Linked DNA regions of Homo sapiens. The protein of the gene in region 1 binds, or shares a complex with, the protein of each later gene. Links are inferred from orthologs where the notes say so. Each region holds a gene or a part of one and is shown in the gene's direction. Other genes may lie near its edges.

Region 1 (7,736 bases):
TCCTTGCTTTCATTCCATATGATTTATCCTTTCTAATCCTAACAACTTGCTTTATTGATCTTATTCTTGACCTACAAATGATACCAGGTGAAGGGGTGGGTTGCCCCCCACACCTGTGGGTGTTTCTCGTTAGGTGGAACGAGAGATTTGGAAAAGAAAAAGACACAGAGACAAAGTATAGAGAAAGAAATAAGGGGACCCAGGGAACCAGCGTTCAGCATATGGAGGATCCCGCCAGCCTCTGAGTTCCCTTAGTATTTATTGATCATTCATGGGTGTTTCTCCGAGAGGGGGATGTGGCAGGGTCACAAGACAATAGTGGGGAGAGGGTCAGCAGACAAACACGTGAACAAAGGTCTTTGCATCATAGACAGGGTAAAGAATCAAGTGCTGTGCTTTTAGATATGCATACACATAAACGTCTCAATGCTTTACAAAGCAGTATTGCTGCCCGCATGTCCCACCTCCAGCCCTAAGACGGTTTTTCCCTATCTCAGTAGATGGAACGTACAATCGGGTTTTATACCAAGACATTCCATTGCCCAGGGACGGGCAGGAGACAGATGCCTTCCTCTTGTCTCAACTGCAAGAGGCATGCCTTCCTCTTATACTAATCCTCCTCAGCACAGACCCTTTACGGGTGTCGGGCTGGGGGACAGTCAGGTCTTTCCCTTCCCACGAGGCCATATTTCAGACTATCCCATGGGGAGAAACCTTGGACAATACCTGGCTTTCCTAGGCAGAGGTCCCTGCGGCCTTCCGCAGTGTTTGTGTCCCTGGGTACTTGAGATTAGGGAGTGGTGATGACTCTTAAGGAGCATGCTGCCTTCAAGCATCTGTTTAACAAAGCACATCTTGCACCGCCCTTAATCTATTTAACCCTGAGTTTGACACAGCACATGTTTCAGAGAGCACGGGGTTGGGGGTAAGGTCATAGATTAACAGAAACTCAAGGCAGAAGAATTTGTCTTAGTACAGAACAAAATGGAGTCTCCTATGTCTACTTCTTTCTACACAGACACAGTAACAATCTGATCTGTCTTGCTTTTCCCCACAACCAGGATAGTCCAGCCAGCTAACTGTCTGTGCCATCTTATTCTTGACCTAATAAATAGCTGCCGGGCTTGGTGGCTCACACCTGTAATCCCAGCATTTTGGGAGGCCGAGGCGGGTGGATCACGAGGTCAGGAGTTCGAGACCAGCCTGGCCAACATAGTGAAACCCCGTCTCTACTGAAAATACAAAAATTAGCTGGGCGTGGTGGCATGCACCTATAATCCCAGCTACTTAGGAGGCCGAGGCAGGAAAATCACTTGAGCCCAGGAGGTGGAGGTTGCAGTGAGCCGAGATCACACCATTGCAGTCCAGCCTGAGCGACAGTGCAAGAGTCTGTCTCAAAAAAAAAAAATAAATAAATAAATAAATAAGTAGCACCACAATAGTTCAGGCAGCCAATAATCTATGCCACTGGTAAGATATTCCACTAGTATATGTCATATATCTTAGACGATGGTGTTGAAAAGCCTAAGGTGGAGGCAGAGGAGAAAAGAAAACAAAAGCAAAAGGAAGAAGAAAAAGTAAAAGAAGAAAGAAGTTGGGCCCGGGCGCGGTGGCTCACACCTGTAATCCCAGAACTTTTGAGAGGCCAAGGCAGGCAGATCACTCGAGGTCAGGAGTTTGAGACCAGCGTGGCCAACGTGGTGAAACCCCATCTCTACTAAAAAAATAAAACTTAGCGGGGTGTGGTGGTAGATATCTGTAGTCCCAGCTACTTGGGAGGCTGAGGAAGGAGAATTGCTTGATCCGGGGAGGTGGAGGCTGCAGTGAGCCGAGATCGTGCCACTGCACTCCAGCGTGGGCAACAAGAACGAGACTCCGTCTCAACAACAACAACAACAACAAAAAAAAAAAAAAAAAAGGAAGAGTCTGGGAAGAGGAAATGATAGGTACCATTATGAAGTGTTTACAGATACTTGCTATACATTACCTCTAATCCTCAGAACCACCTTGCAAGATATGTACTACTGTCCTCTTTTTTTTTTTTTTTTTTTGAGACAGAAGGCTGAGTCAGGAGGCTGAATCAGGAGAATCACTTGAACCCGGGAGGTGGAGGTTGCAGTGAGCCGAGATTGTGCCACTGCACTCCAGCCTGGGCAACAGAGCAAGACTCCATCTCAAAAAAATAAATACACAAAATAAATAAATAAAGTGGAGACAGGAGGTGAGGCCTTACCAACAATTGCATCATGTGCTACTCAAAAATAATAGCACATTAGTTGCCAACAATTATCTACCATTAACTTTTCTGCATGACAAAATTTAAGATTTTCTCTTATCCTTCTATCCAGACCTCTTTACTTTATCATTTGTGCTAGGGAAGCAGGAGCCTCAGAGAGCCAGCATAAAGCCATTTTAAGTTCAGCTCCATCTTGAAACTAACAAGGCACATTCCTTGTCAGTCACAACCCAAAGCTGTTTACAGTTGGGGAAACAGCTTAAAGATACCTGCAAGGACAGACTCCTCCAACTACAGAAAATCCAGATGCCCCAATACCCATAACAATATGTGCCTTTAAGATAATTATAGTTCTGGCTGGGTGTGGAGGCTAAGGCAGGATTGCTTTAGGCCAGGAGTTCGAGATCAGCCTGGCCAACATTGCAAAACCCCCTCTCTACTAAAGATACAAAAATTAGCTGGGTGTCGTAGCACATGCCTACAATCCCAGTAGTGAGACCCCATCTCTACAACAAAATATTTTTTTAATTAATTGGATGCACTGGTTCATGCCTGCAGTCACAGCTACTTGGGAGGCTGAGGTGAAAGGATGTAGCTGTAATCCAGCTATTAGGGATGCTGAGACACAAGAATGGCTTGAACCCAGGAGGTGGAGGTTGCAGTGAGCTGAGATCACGCCACTGCACTACAGCCTGGGCAACAGATCAAGACTCTGTCTCAAGAAAAAAAAAAAAGGAAGAAAGATAATTAAGTTTTGCTTTGATGTACTTACCTACTAGAATGTCAAGGATAGTTAAATTAACAGAATAATAAATTTTGTCATGCCATTGGCCCATCTGCACATTGACTCGGCTTAGTTTAGTCTCTACAAAAACAAGACCCCTATATAAGAAAAACTTAAAGGTCAGGGGCGGTGGCTCATACCTGTAATCCCAACACTTTGGGAGGCTGAGGAGTGTGGATACCTTGAGTCCAGGAGTCCCAGACCAGCTTGGGTAGCATGACAATACCCTGTGTCTACAAAACATACAACTATTAGCTGGCTGTGGTGGTGCATGCCTGTAGTCCTAGCTACTTGGGAGACTGAAGTGGGAGGATCGCTTGAGCTCAGGAGGTGGAGGCTGCAGTGAACTATGATCATGCTACTACACTCCAGCCTGGGCAACAGAGTAAGACCCTGTCTCAAAAAAAGAAGAAAAAAAAAAAGAAAGAAAGAAAAGAAAAACTTAAGACAGTGTGTTCCTCTGTTTGCTTTCTGAGGACGCCCTACTCCGTAAGGGTGTAGCTTTCAATAAACTCTCTCTTCTCATCGCACTCTACGACTTGCTTTGGGTTCCTTCCTGCATGAGATCCAAGAATTCTCTCTTGGGGTCTGGATCGGGACCCCTTTTTCCAGTAACATGTAGACACACACACACATTCAGTTTAAAAGCCCATATTACAACGTACATCCACCTCATCTTCACACTGAGATTTGGGTGACATCTGTCCCTTTTTGAGTTTTGACCCAAGTTAACCTTTTAAGACGCTCTTTATTTCTTCCCCTTTTGCCTCAGTTCACGTTCCTCCCCCTTCTCCTTACATGCCTTTTATAGCAGCCTCTCCTTTTCTCTTTTATTCTTTTTCTACACATTTCTCTTACTGTAAAATCAGAAGCCAGGCGCGGTGGCTCACGCCTGTAATCCCAGCAGTTTGGGAAACCGAGGCGGGAGGGTCTCTTGAACCCAAGAGTTCGAGACCAGCCTGGGCAACATAGTAAGACCCCCGTCTCTACTAAAAAAAAATTAAAAATTAGCTGGGCATGACGGTGTGCGTCTGTAGTCCCAGCTACTCAGGAGGCTGAGGCGGGAGGATCGCTTGAGGCCAGGAGTTCAAGGCTGCAGAGAGTCACGATCCCACCACTGCACTCCAACCTGGGTGACGCGGCCAGACCCTGTCTCTAAAAAGAAAAAAACTAGAGGGGTGTATCTATCACGCTTTCAATAGATATTCAGCTTGGGTTCTATACTTTTCTCATGACCCTTTGTCTTTCTGTTTTCCAGGTCACTCCTCCTCCCCTACACTTAATTCCCACCCTGCTCCCTTTTCACGGCCCACTCCCCTTCCAGGAGTCCTGCCTGCTGCTTCGAACTCCAATGATCGTCCCATTCACCTCTCACCCCTTTTCCCGCCTTTTTGCCCCACAAGGCTCCAAAGCGCGAGGACCTTATTGTCCTCCTCCCCCATCCTCCAACCAGCCCACAGGACAGCCGCGTTACCATGACGACCGGGCTCCTAGAAGCTGCAGTCAAGGACCTGGTTGCCATGGTTTCCGCTTCTCCGCCTCCAGCCCCGCCCGCGCTCCCCGCGGCGTCGGCGCCTGCGCAGTGCGTGGCGCGCCGGGAGTCAGAGCCTGGGCGGGACGGGGCGGGGCTTCGGGCGAGAGGGAGGGCAGCAGGAGAAAGGATAAGAAAGGGAGTGGGACTGGCGCCTACGGTGGCCGAAGTGGGACGCGCCGAGCCGGAGGCTGCAGGATGGTAGGCTGTGCGAAGAGGGAGGGGAGGGGGAAGCGAGGGGCGTGGGCTGCACCTGCGGGGGTCCTCGGGGGCCGCCCTCGGGGTGAACCGCCCTGTCTTCCCTCTGGTCCTCAGAGGCCTCCCTTGCCTCGGCGGGTGGGCGAGCCGGGCTCGGGAGGAAGAGGGGGAGGTGGCATTCGGGAGAGGGGCGGGGAGGGGGCGCATTTGCAGGGCGAGCGGGGGCTGACGAAGGGGCGGCGGGGCCGTCCCGAGCCGGGAGGGGCGCTCTGGTCTTGGCCCCTGGGGTCCCTCGATCCCCGCTGCAGGGAAGCCGCCCGAAGCAGAGGGTTGCGGGAGTCTCTTTGCTGAGGGAGGGAGCGGGGGTCACCAGTCACCGAGACCCCCTTCCCGGGCTGCACAGGCGGGAGCGGGGACCCGGGTGGGGAGAGGGGTGTGGGAGGGGAGTTTCCGGGTCGGAAAAGGGAGCGCCCTACTGCGTTCGTGGCCGTGCTTGCCTAGAGGCTGGGCCCAGGTAGGGAAGCGAAGTGGACTCGTGGTTTTTCTCCGAGGGACCCAGGCTTTGGGATCCCGGGCTCCGGGGCTCTCTGCCCCCCTTCCCATTCTCTTTCCGGAATCCAGGCCTTCCGTCTTCCTGCTTGCTCCCCACCCCCCTATTTGAGCGCCGCACGAGGCTCCCCAGCGCCCCTCTTTTCCCCTCCACCAAAAAAATCAGTTCTCCTGAATTCTGATTTTTCACTTACTAAGCTAGTACAGTGCCACACACCCAGGGATTCCAAGCCTGGGCATGTCCATGAATAGAAGAGCTACTGGGGTAAGGAGAAGACTCCAGGATGTGGCCCAGACCCCCCGGAACTGGGAAGCTGGGGTACACTGGGCAGTGAGGGTTCTGTCTTCCATCCCACTTGACCCAGCTTGCTGTCTGTTCTGCAGACATTCTTTTAGGGGAACCCCCTGGGTGGCGGGGCCCTAACTGAGGGAAATTGGTCACCTGGTGTCTGGGGAGGAGTGGGCGCTTAGCAGGAGGCACCCTAAAAGGAAGAAAAGTTAAAGAGAAATGTCGAAGACCAAATGCCTGGGTGCCTGCAGAGAGGAAGATAGGATTTGGGCATCTGCATACCCTGTGTGGTGTTGGAGATACATACTACAGAGGAGGATACCCCTGGGCATAGGCCTGGCACTGGAGGATGATATGTTTGGGAGATCATTAAGATCTTATGGCTATGATGGGGTGGAAAATTGAGGTAGCTTCTCCAGGGACAAAATACCAGATTTCAGCATGGTGATGGATAGAGAGAGGGTGGAAGAGAACAGGCATTTCTTTGGCGTCGGTTACTGTCGTCTTGTCACTGTGCTAGGCATTTTACTTACCTTTAGAAAGCAGACCAGAAAGCAAGAGGTCAGGGAATCATGGTAATAATAGTAATAACTAACGGCCGGGCGCAGTGGCTCATGCCTTAATGCCAGCACTTTGGGAGGCCTAGGTGGGTGGATCACCTGAGGTCGGGAGTTCGAGACCAGGGCCTGGCCAACATGGTGAAACCACATCTCTACTAAAAATACAAATATTAGCCGGGCGTGATGGCACGTGACTGTAATCCCAGCTACTCAGGAGGCTGAGGCAGGAGAATCGCTGGAACTTGGGAGGCGGAGATTGCACTGAACAGTGATTGCGCCACTGCACTCCAGCCTGGGCGACAGAGAGAGACTCTGTCTCAAAAATAATAATAATAATAGCTAACATGTTATACTGCCTGCCTGTGCTAGGGACTTGCATATATCAAATCATTTAGTCTCACCTAACAACTGTGCAAGGCAGGTACAATGTCCATTTTACACATAAGGAAACTGAGGCCCAGAGACTTACAGTAGTAATTGGGCCAAGGCCTTGCATAACTAGTAGAGCCAGGATTTGAACCCAGCTGACAGACTCAGAAGCTCTGACTTCCCCCTGCTGGTGGAAACACCCAGCCTTGAGAGCAAGGGGCTGGATGTTGGAAGAAAGTAGAGAAGAATTAGCTGGAGATAAGTTTGGGGAATGTGTGGTTACCCTCGGTTCTGCCCTCCCATCCCCCACAGATGCGGTTCATGCTATTATTCAGCCGGCAGGGAAAACTGCGGCTGCAAAAATGGTACCTGGCCACTTCGGACAAGGAACGGAAGAAGATGGTGCGCGAGCTCATGCAGGTTGTCCTGGCTCGAAAGCCCAAGATGTGCAGCTTCCTGGAGTGGAGGGACCTCAAAGTTGTCTATAAGAGGTGACTCCCCACCTACTTTCAGACCTGCCTAGATTCAAGTTGGGCAGTGGGTTAAAATGTCTGAGAAATGGTCGTCCTGTAGGTCAGGGAGACCTGGGAGCTGAGGACATCTGGAGGACAGTAATGAATGTCAGCTTCCTTTTTTTTTTTTTTTTTTCTCCCCAAACTCTTAAAGAAGTTCTTGTTTACCACTTGGTTTTGCTCACGTGCAACACCTGCCTCACTCACGTGTCCCTTTGGGCCCTGTCTTGCCCCACTGCGCATGTCCCTTGCAGTCAAAGGTCCTGCCCTACTTTTCCTAACACACACGCACACACACACCCTTTCCGGTTCCTTCTCCTCGGAGCAGGTAAATTACTTGGCTCAGGTTTTTGCTGAGTCAAACTTAGGAGGTCAGAGGGCAGGAAGGAAAAAGCATGCGTTCTTTGCATGTTTTTAAGACAGCACAAAGAGGCAGGTGAGTTACTCTTTACATGCCCTAGGGCCACCTCACCTGTGGCCAGCCAGGGCACAGACCACCTCCAGGCTGGTGAGAGGTTTGAGACCAGAATGCCTGGGTCCTGAAGCAAGCTTGTAGCGATGTCTCATGCGCTCCTCTCCGCAGATATGCCAGCCTCTACTTCTGCTGCGCCATCGAGGGCCAAGACAATGAGCTCATCACACTGGAGCTGATCCACCGATACGTGGAGCTCTTAGACAAATACTTTGGCAGTGTAAGTCTCCTCTGCC
Region 2 (3,538 bases), on another chromosome or scaffold:
TGCTTGGCTAAATTTTTTTATTTTTGTATTTTTTTTATTTTTAGTAGAGACAGGGTTTTGCCATGTTGGCCAGGCTGGTCTTGAACCCTGACCTCAGGTGATCCACCCCCACTGGCCTCCCAAAGTGCTAGTGGCAGGTGTGAGCCACCACACACGGCCAGAATAGACTTTAAAGCAAGAAAGCAAAAGAAAAAATGTATTAGATCCCCGAGAAGTTTCCACACAACTCCAAGAATTATTATTAGAGTTCCCACTCTCTGAGGAATTTTCAAGAGAAATTAGTTAGAATTCAACAAGAAATAAATTACTTTAAAATATTTCCAAATATGAGAGGTTTTTTTTGTTTTTGTTTTTGTTTTTGTTTTTGTTTTTGTTTTGAGAAAGGGTCTCTGTTGCCCAGGCTGGAGTGCAGTCAGTGGCACGATGTCAGCTCACTGCAACCTTGGCCTCCTAGGCTGAAATAGTCCTCCCATCTCAGTCTCACAAGTAGCTGGGATTACAGGTGAGCACCACCAAGCTCAGCTATTTTTTTTTTTTTTTTGTATTTTTAGTAGAGATGGAGTTTTGCCATGTTGCCCAGGCTGGTCTTGCACTTGGGCTCAAGTGATCCACCTGCCTCAGCCTCCACAGTGCTGGAATTACAGGTGTGAGTCACCATGCCCAGCCAATATGAGAGATTTTAAAGCACATTTTTCAATCACCATGTGTCAAAGAAGAAAATATAATGGAAGTTAGAAAATATTAGAGAATGGCCAGGTGCAGTGGCTCATGTCTATAATCCCAGCACTTTAGGAGGCTGAAGCAGGTGAATCACTTGAGCTCAGGAGTTCGAGACCAGCCTGGCCAACATGGCGAAAATCCATCTCTACTAAAAATACAAAAATTAACCAGGTGTAGTGGCACACGCCTGTAAATCCCAGCTACTCAGGAGGCTGAGGCCCAAGAATGGCTTGAACCCTGGAGGCAGAGGTTGCAGTGAGCTGAGATTGTGCCACTGCACTCCAGCCTGGGCAACGAAACGAGAGTCTGTCTCCAAATAAATAATTAGAGAATATTTTTCAATCTGGATGCAGGTGACATGGGTGTGCTCTCGAGAATCCATCAAGCATTGATGATTTGCACACTCTTTTGTGTATATGTTACACTTCAGCAAAAACATTCACAAAGGGGAAAAAGGCAAAAGATACTTAAAGCAGCCAGAGGTAAAGACACATCACCTTCAGACATGACAACCAGACAGACAGACAGCTGGCTTTTCAAAGGAACCCAGAAAACAGTTGGGTGACATTTTCAACATGCTAAAAGAAAACCACTAACCCAAATCAGAGACCCAGCAAAAGTATTTCAAGAATGAGGTTACAGTAAAAACATTTTGCAGACAAATAACGAAAGAGTTTGCCAGCAGCAGGCTAACACTAAAGAAAATTGTAAACAGTGTACTCACATCAGGCACAAGGAAAGTGATCTCAGACGGAAGGGCATGATGCAAGAAGAAATAAAAGCAAAGAAGTAGAAAATACATGAGAAAATCTAGACAAAGATTGCATAAACAGTTTCTGGAGTTTTTTTAAGTGATAGAATTATACAACAGGAAAAAAAGTCTGCAGGGAGTAAACTGAGTTAAAATGTTCCAAGTTAATGACTGTCTGGGAGGAGAATAAATAACATGGATACACTTTGGGAGGCCGAGGCGGGCGGATCACGAGGTCAGGAGATCGAGACCATCCTGGCTAACACGGTGAAACCCCGTCTCTACTAAAAATACAAAAAATTAGCCGGGCGCGGTGGCGGGCGCCTGTAGTCCCAGCTACTCCGGAGGCTGAGGCAGGAGAATGGCGTGAACCCGGGAAGCGGAGCTTGCAGTGAGCCGAGATTGCGCCACTGCAGTCCGCAGTCCGGCCTGGGCGACAGAGCGAGACTCCGTCTCAAAATAAATAAATAAATAAATAAATAACATGGATAAAATTTGTTGTTTGTTGTTGTTGTTGTTGTTGTTGTTGTTGTTGAGACGGAGTTTCGCTCTTGTTGCCCAGGCTGGAGTGCAATGGCGCGGTCTTTGCTCACTGCAACCTCTGCATCCCGGGTTCAAGCTATTCTCCTGCCTCAGCCTCCTGAGTAGCTGGGATTACACGATGCGCCACCAGGCCTGCCTAACTTTGTATTTTTGGTAGAGGCGGGGTTTCTCCATGTTGGTCAGGCTGGTCTCAAACTCCCGACCTCAGGTGATCCGCCCGCCTCGGCCTCCCAAAGTGCTGGGATTACAGGCATGAGCCACTGCGCCCAGCCAAATCTGCATTTTGATAAGTATGCATTTTACTATCTAAGGGAGCTAAAACATTTTTATTATTTTAGCACTGTAACTTTGCTTTTCTTCTTTGTTTTGTTTTTTTGAGACAGAGTCTCACTCTGTCGCCCAGGCTGGAGTGCAGTGGCGTGATCTCAGCTCACTGCAACCTCCACCTCCTGGGTTCAAGCAATTCTCCTGCCTCAGCCTCCTGAGTAGCCAGGATTACAGGTGCACGCCACCACACCCAGCTAATTTATGTAATTTTATAGAGTTGTGGTTTCACCATATTGGCCAAGCTGGTCTAGAACTCCTGGCCTCAAGTGATCCACCTGCCTCGGCCTCCCAAAGTGCGGGGAGACCAGAATTCCACCCAGAATGACCTCTCTGTTCCTAGGAGTGTGACAGCATTTGGGGGGGAAAATAGCGTAGAGTTGGAATTTTTAAAATTCAGTTTGACAAAATGACTTTTAGCTGGAGCATTAAGTCCCTTTACATTTAATGTAATAACTGATATTACATTTAAGTATAAATTTAAATCTACCGTCTTACTTTGTTTTCTATTTTTGTCCTTTCTATGTTCTCTTTTATGTCCTCTCTGGATTTATTACAGATTGTTTGTGGCTTTTAAAAAAAGTCATTGCTTGAATGATGAGAGCTTATATTTAAAAAGGCAGGGGGCTAAAATAAATAAATAATTTAAAAAATAAAAATAAAGTCATTGTTTTCCTTTGAATGTTTGAGAGTTACAATTCTAGGCTGGGCGAGGTGGCTCAAGCCTGTAATCCCAGCGCTTTGGGAGGCCAGCCCAGGTGGATCACCTGAAGTCAGCATCGTGAAACCCCATCTCTACTAAAAATACAAAAATTAGCCGGGCACAGCGGCATGTGCCTGTAATCCCAGCTACTCGGGAGGCTGAGGCAGGAGAATCACTCGAACCTGGGAGGCGGAGGTTTCAGTGAACCAAGATCTCACCATTTCACTCTAGCCTGGGCAACAAGAGCAAAACTCCATCTCAAAAAGAAAGAAATATATATGAGTAGATATTAAATGTGTACACATATATACATATATAAAGGCTAAAATAATGATCTAAGCCTCCATCTCAAGAAGTTAGAAAAAGAACAACAAAATAAATGTAAGAGCACAGAAAGAAGGAAATAATAGGGAGTAGATACAAAGAAAATGGAAAAGAAACACTCAATAAAGAAAATCAACAAAGTGAGTTTATTTAAAAAAAAATGAATGAAATTG
Region 3 (7,042 bases), on another chromosome or scaffold:
CTAGTACCTGGGACTACAGGCGCCCACCACCATGCCCGGCTAATTTTTGTATTTTTAGTACAGAAGTGCTTTCACCATGTTGGCCATGCTGGTCTCAAACTCCTGACCTCAGGTGATTCGCCTGCCTTGGCCTCCCAAAGTGGTGAGAAAACAGGTGTGAGCCACCACGCTCGGCCTTGAATTTGTTTTTAATTTGAATTTTCTGCATACCTTTTGACATAAACTATATTACATCATGTTTGGACAGAGTGGGGTGTAATAAAAGTAGAATATGGTGACTTAACATGTCACATTTTTAAGGAATGAGGCAGATAGGTATTATTATTGGGTAATACATTTATTTGTTGCCCCTCTTTTTGAGACTCTCAGGTATTCTAACTTCCACCTTTGTAGAACAGCCTGTTGAACCCAAGCTGCATGTTTGGACATTAGTGGTATATCTCGTAGGGACTTTTGAAGAAGAATATTGCATGAAGATTCAAAATATCAAAACTAACTTTGATTATGTAAGAATACATCTCCTTGGTTATTTCGTGTGCAAAGATTGGGATCACAAGATCGTGCAAGGACGTCAGCACATCTGGCAGTACTTGGTGTTCACAGAGTGCATACCTGGGTCTTTGTTTCATTTCCACTATAAATTTCTTAACTGTTTTTAATTTTTCCCTTCTGCAAGGCGTGCAATGGAATTGAGTTTTGCCCTGGTAAATGGGAATAATATCCGAGGCATGATGAAAGAATTACTTTATTTTCTGGATTCGTGTGAGCCAGAATTTAAAGCAGACTGTGCATCTGGAATCTTTCTTGCTGCAGAAAAGTAAGATTTAATTTTTACCTTTATTGGTAAAGTCTGCTTGGAACTTTTGGAAGTGTCTTTAAAACATGGGGAGGGGGCTGGGCGCGGTGGCACACGCCTGCAGTCTCAGCAGTTTGGGAGGCCAAGGCAGGTGGATCATGAAGTCAGGAGTTCGAGACCAGCCTGGCCAACATAGTGAAACCCTGTCGCCACTAAAAATACAAAAATTTGTTGGGCCTGGTGGCACGCGCCTGTAGTCCCAGCTACTCGGCAGGCTGAGGCAGGAGAATCACTTGAACCTGGGAGGTGGAGGTTGCAGTGAGCCAAGGTTATGCCACTGCACTCCAGCCTAGGTGACAGAGCAAGACTCCATCTCAAAAACAAAACAAAAAAAAAAAAATGGGGAAACTACTTTAAATATGTTTAAAACACATAACATTTATTTCAAACCCTCAATTATAAATTAGCTTGGAGAAGGCTATTATAGCCAGCATTTAAATATGCTGAGACCAAAAAAATTTCACACTTTTATGAAATCTTCTCCTTTATCTGTTCTTTAACCTCTCATCTATGATGCTGGTTTTTTTTGTTTTGGGTTTTTTTGAGACAGGGTCTCACTTTGTCACCTAGGCTGGAGTGCAGTGGCACAGTCTCGGCTCAGTGCAACCTTGACCTCCCAGGTTCAGGGGATCCTCCTGCCTCAGCCCCCCAAGTAGCTGGGACCATAGGCTTACGCCACCACACCCTGCTAATTTCTGGGTTTGTTTTTTTCTTTTTGTAGAGATGGGGTTTCGCTATGTTGTCCAGGCTGGTCTCGAACTCCTGGACTCAAGCGATTCGCCTGCCTCAGCCTCCCAAAGTGCTAGGATTACAGGCATCAGCCACCACACCTGGCCTGTGATGCTGTTTTAATAAAGGCAATAGAACAGTTACAGCACCTGAATTGCAGCTCTATGCAGAATTTTGAGGAAGTACCTTATGATTTTAGTAGTACAGCTATTCTTTCTCTTCTTTCCACTCTGAATTTAAGGAAACAAGTTTTTAGTCCAAATGTTGTCTTGGTCTGAAAACAGTCCCTTTTCTTCTTTCTTCTTTATCGTCTCCTGCCCTGACTGAATGATTCATTTTCTCTGAAACTGAAAACAAATCTCATTTCTCAGCTTAGCAACTCTTATTGCAATCTTATGGGAAACATCTGAGTTTGACTATGTACCCTCTTTTTTTTTTTTCTTTAATTTTAGAAACGGAGTCTTGCTCTGTCACCCAGGCTGGAGGGCAGTGGCCCAGTCATAGCTTACTGCAGCCTGGACTTCTGGGCTTAAGCCATCCTTCTGCCTCAGCCTCCTGAGTAGCTGGGACTGTAGCTGCAAATCATCATGTGCCACTAATTTTTTAATTTTTATTTTGTAGAGATGGGGTCTTGCTATGTTACCCAGGTTTGTGTGGAACTCCTGGCCTCAAGCACTCCTTCCTCCTTGGCGTCCCAAAGTACTGGGATTATAGGCATGAGCCACTGAAGTCAGTTGACTGTATACCTTTTTATCACTCTTTGAAATGGCATTTGCTGCTAGATTTGAAGTTGAAATGTTTCCAGATATGTTCACTTATCCAGGGAACCTAGAAAAGACTGTAGGACAGGATTTTCTTCTCTTTTCTTTTCCTTTCTTTTCCTTTCCTTCCTTTCTTTCTTTCTTTCTTTTTCTTTCTTTTCTTTCTCTCTCTTTTTTGTTCCTTCCTTCCTTCCTTCCTTCTTTCCTTCCATCTTCTTTCCTTCTTTCTTTTCTTTCTTCTCTTCTCTTTCTTCCCTTTCTTTTCTTTCTTCTGTTTCTTCTCTTTCTTTTCTCTCTCTTCTTTCTCACTGTAGCCTCAACCTCCTAGGCTCAGGCAATCCTCCTACCTCAACCTCCCAGAGTAGCTGAACTACAGGCACCCACCACCACACCCAGCTAATTTTTGTATTTTTTGGTGAGATGGAGTTTCACCGTGTTGCCCAGGCTGGTCTCGAACTCCTGAGCTCAGGTGATCTCCCACCTCGGCCTCCCAAGATGTTGGGATGACAGGTGTGAGTCACCCTGCTTGGGCAGGATTTTCTAGTCACTGAAAACGGTATATTTTACTGGTTCCAAGTGTCCCTTTCCATTGTTTTTTTCAGGTATGCACCTTCCAAACGATGGCATATAGACACAATTATGCGTGTTTTGACAACGGTAAGTAGCTTCTTTCAGACAGCATATACGAAGTGCTGGGATATACTGATGTTATCATGAAGTTTATGTTCTAGTCAGGGAGGTAAGAAATTCACAAGTAAATAGGTAACATTAATGTCAGTTAGGAATAAATGCCATGAAGAAAAACCTAAAGCAGCATGGAGGAATATAATGATGGCAGGATAAGGTGGGATATAGGGCAACTGGCCAAGTGTTTTAGATTAGAGTTAGTCAGGGAGGTCTCTCAGAGGAGATAACATTTGAGTAGAGACCTAAGAGACATGAGGTGCAAGCCATGCAGAGATCGTGAGGAATAGTGTACCATACGGAGGGAACCCTAAGTGCAAAGACCTGAGGTAGGAACAAGCATAGCTTGCTTGGAGAGCAACAGGAAGGCAAGTGAAGCCATAAAGTGAGAGAGGCAGAGAATGGTAGGATGGATGTCAGAGACATAAGCGGAGCCAGACTATGTAGGCCTCATGGGAGCTTGCATTTTATTTTGAATATGTTAGGAAGCCATTGCAGGGTTTTGAATGGCTAAAGTTACTCAGGATTTGAAATCCTGTTTTGGATGGGATCCTTTCTTTGGCATTCTTGCAGAAATTCAGGGTTTCTGTGTTTATTATTCAATTAGTAGGCAAGGATTAGGTATTTAAGAGTAAAAATGAAAGTGCAGTGACATGTAAAGAAAACCATTTCCATTAATTAAGTCACTAGAAGTAGCTACTGTAAAGGAAAAGCCACAAATTTAACCATATTAAAATTTAAAAATTGAATAACAAAAAGGGGAACAGTCTACGATTTAAAAGGCAAATTAACAACTGGGGAAAACATTAACTTATGACAGCATATTAATATATTCAATCTATGAATAATTTATAATTGATAGGAAATACCACTCTAATGGAAAAATTGGTATTTGAACCAGCAATTCATGAAGAAAGAAATGGCTAATTAACATTTGAAAAAATTTTCTTATTAAAGAAATAAAGTAAAATTGAGGTATCATTTTTCACATTTCGTATTTTTTAATCTAATTCCCAGTGTTAGAAAATAGAGAAACAGGCAGTACTCTTCACTTTATGGGAGTATAGGATGATGCCATCTTTTTACTATGCAGTTTGGTAGCATGTAGGAAAAGCCTTAAATTGTACCCTTTGATTCATTAATTCAATTTTTAGGACTTTAGCCTGAAAAAATAATAGGACAAGTACACAAAAATGTGTATGTAAAAGTATTCATCCTAATATTGTTTATAGTAGGAGAAAACCGGAAACAACTAGTAGTCCCCAAATGGGGATTAAGTAAATTATGAAACATCTGTAGGGAGAAAATTATATCATTGAAATTATGACTTATATGTATTTGTTGACTTATGAAATTATGACTTATATGTATATGTATTTGTTGCTGTGGAATTCTCTCTGGGGCATACTCGTTTTTTAGTTTACTTACAATGAATTAACTTGGTAAAAGGTTAAAAGTTAATAAATTTGATTAGCAAGGGGAAAAATTATAATCTAACAAAATGTAATTAACATAATGATGAACAGGACATGTTTTCCTAGTTTTCATGAGGCTCAAAAGAAGGGAGAAATTAACACTCCTGAAGGAAAGTGTTTATGAGAATTCAAAAGCTTTTTTTTTGTGCCCCTGATTTTATTTTTCTAACTGACTTGTGTTCTCTTATGATCATGTGATTTGTTTTCTTTAGCCTGTTACATGCTGGGTTACATTGATATTTGAATGCCTAACCAGCCTTACATACCTGGAATACGTGGTCAGGGTATATTATTCTTTTTATAACTTTGTTGGGTTTGATTTGCTAATATCTTGTTGAGTATTTTTATATGTGTATTCATGAGAGAGATTGGCTTATAGTTTTCTCTTATAATGTTGTTTTTGACCCATGTGTTATTTAGAAGTATGTTCTTTTAATCTCCAAATATTTTGGGATTTTTTTGCACCTGTCTTTGTGTTGCAGATTTCTAGTTTAATTCTGTGTGGTCTAAGAGCATACTGTCTATGATTTATGTTATTTGAAATTTGTTAAGATATTTTTTATGACCCAGAATATGGTCTTTCTTGGTTCAGTGTAAGTTTAAGAAAAATGTGTATTCTGCTGCTGTTGAATGAAGTAGTCTTATTATACAAACCCATTAGATCACCCTGATGCTTTCTTGTATTTAATGCACTCTGCTTTACGGAAGGATGTAAATAAACTATACTGCAAATTACCTGCTTTTTAGCTTCTCACCTTTCCTTCTGATCATTTTCCCAGAATTCTTCCTCTGTCTTTGTGTTTCTTAACAGGAGTGACCTGATAAAACCCTGATCACCTGGCTGTTTTTTTTTTTTTTTCTTTTTTTTCCTTTCCAAAATACACATGGTTAGGACTGGTCTCAGTCTTACAAATTAAATCTATTGTTCTATTTAGGAATGGGAGATTGACCAAGGTTGGGTGATAAAGTTTTAAACCTTTACATTATTATTATTATTATTATTATTGTTGGTAGTGATGGAGTCTTGCTGTGTGGCCCAGGCTTGTGTCAAACTCCTGGCCTCAAGCAGTCATCTTGCTTCAGCCATCCAAAGTGCTGCGATTACAGGTGTGAGCCACTGTGTCCAGCCTTCCTTTTTTAATTTGGACAAAGAGAAATTTTTTTTTTTTTTTTTTTGAGACGGAGTCTCAGTCTGTTGCTCAGGCTGGAGTGCAGTGGCGCAAACTCGGCTCACTGCAAGCTCGGCCTCCTGGGTTCACGCCATTCTGCTGTCTCAGCCTCCTGAGTAGCTGGGACTACAAGCACCCACCACATGCCCGGCTAATTTTTTGTATTTTTAGTAGAGACGGGGTTTCATCGTGTTAGCCAGGATGGTCTCGATCTCCTGACCTTGTGATCCACCCGCCTTGGCCTCCCAAAGTGCTGGGATTACAGGCGTGAGCCACCACACCCGGCCTTTGGACAAAGAGAAAATTTTTAAAAATAAAATAAAATTTAAAAATGTAACATATTTAAATAAGACTTTGAAGTTTGAGCTGTTATGAACCTGAGAATTGGAACCAAATTTATCTTTGAGGGTGTTTTCTGGTATTCTTCTTTTAAAAACAATAGTAATGGCTGGGCGCAGTGGCACACGCCTGTAATCCCAGCACTTTGAGAGGCCGAGGCAGGTGGATCATCTGAGGTCAGGAGTTCGAGACCACCCTGACCAACATGGTGAAACCCCATCTCTACTAAAAATAGAAAAAATTAGCCAGGTGTGGTGGCATGTACCTGTAGTCCCAGCTACTTGGGAGGCTGAGGCATGAGAATCGCTTGAACCTGGGAGGTGGAGGTTGCAGTGAGCCAAGATCGCGCTATCGCACTCCAGCCTGGGTGACAGAGCGAGACTCTGTCTCAAAAAAAGAAAGGAAAAAACACACAGTAATAATAATAGCTAACACTTGTTATCATCATTTCTGTGTGTTTCTAGGGGTAATTGTCTGCATTTCCTTTTAGGCAGGAAGTTATGTTCGTGATGATGCAGTCCCCAATTTAATCCAGTTAATAACTAATAGTGTGGAGATGCATGCCTATACTGTCCAGCGCCTGTACAAAGCAATTCTTGGTGATTATTCTCAAGTAAGTACTTCATTCAACTATTTTAGGGGGTAATTTTACCCTCAATTTTTCTGGTATGTTTTTCTTCTTTTTTTTCCCCCCTCCTCTCTCCCCTTTGGTATGTCTTTATTTCTAACACTCTAGATATGCACAGTTTTGATCTTTATTATGAGATGACCTATGATTTGCATTAAATAACTTTGGAAAAATTGAAGTTCTTGAGAAACGTTGACTTTTCTTTTCACAGCAACCTTTGGTACAAGTGGCTGCATGGTGTATAGGTGAATATGGTGATCTTCTTGTATCTGGCCAGTGTGAAGAGGAAGAGCCTATTCAGGTACTCCTTGTCACTCTTGGTTAAGTGGGGGAAAATAGTGGTTTTGGTTATAGGAGAGTAGTGTTTAATGGGGAGTTGAGGTTGATTCCTTGAAAACTTT

The links. The genes of interacting proteins can lie anywhere in the genome.
Region 2: the proteins of AP1S1 (region 1) and AP1M1 are in contact, whole or in part, in a crystal structure (PDB 1W63), measured with the Mus musculus proteins. The link is inferred for Homo sapiens from one-to-one orthologs. Residues at the interface, in NP_031483.1 of Mus musculus: Lys26, Lys30, Arg33, Glu34, Gln37, Lys43, Glu51, Trp52, Arg53, Asp54; in NP_031482.1 of Mus musculus: Lys12, Glu31, Asn186, Asn188, Val189, Leu190, Glu232, Glu234, Asn270, His272, Arg421.
Region 3: the proteins of AP1S1 (region 1) and AP1G1 are in contact, whole or in part, in a crystal structure (PDB 1W63), measured with the Mus musculus proteins. The link is inferred for Homo sapiens from one-to-one orthologs. Residues at the interface, in NP_031483.1 of Mus musculus: Met1, Leu14, Arg15, Leu16, Gln17, Lys18, Trp19, Leu21, Ala22, Thr23, Asp25, Arg28, Lys29, Arg42, Lys45, Met46, Cys47, Ser48, Phe49, Glu51, Lys56, Gln74, Asp75, Asn76, Glu77, Leu78, Ile79, Leu81, Glu82, Leu83; in NP_001288140.1 of Mus musculus: Leu7, Arg8, Ile11, Arg12, Arg15, Leu54, Tyr55, His57, Met58, Gly60, Tyr61, Lys78, Phe79, Thr80, Arg83, Ile84, Leu87, Met90, Leu91, Asp94, Glu95, Thr115, Phe117, Leu123, Cys124, Gly127, Cys128, Tyr152, Lys155, Lys156.

Annotation. Positions count from the first base shown.
Region 1 is NC_000007.14:101,149,766-101,157,501, forward strand, and holds the start of AP1S1 (AP-1 complex subunit sigma-1A), read left to right. Parts: upstream 1-4,710; 5' UTR 4,711-4,749; coding exon 4,750-4,752; intron 4,753-6,828; coding exon 6,829-7,007; intron 7,008-7,611; coding exon 7,612-7,720; intron 7,721-7,736. UniProt on the Homo sapiens protein: Subunit of clathrin-associated adaptor protein complex 1 that plays a role in protein sorting in the late-Golgi/trans-Golgi network (TGN) and/or endosomes.
Region 2 is NC_000019.10:16,242,910-16,246,447, forward strand, and holds the end of AP1M1 (AP-1 complex subunit mu-1), read left to right. Parts: 3' UTR 1-2,997; downstream 2,998-3,538. UniProt on the Homo sapiens protein: Subunit of clathrin-associated adaptor protein complex 1 that plays a role in protein sorting in the trans-Golgi network (TGN) and endosomes.
Region 3 is NC_000016.10:71,749,794-71,756,835, reverse strand, and holds part of AP1G1 (AP-1 complex subunit gamma-1), read left to right. Parts: intron 1-676; coding exon 677-817; intron 818-2,948; coding exon 2,949-3,003; intron 3,004-6,503; coding exon 6,504-6,626; intron 6,627-6,852; coding exon 6,853-6,942; intron 6,943-7,042. UniProt on the Homo sapiens protein: Subunit of clathrin-associated adaptor protein complex 1 that plays a role in protein sorting in the late-Golgi/trans-Golgi network (TGN) and/or endosomes.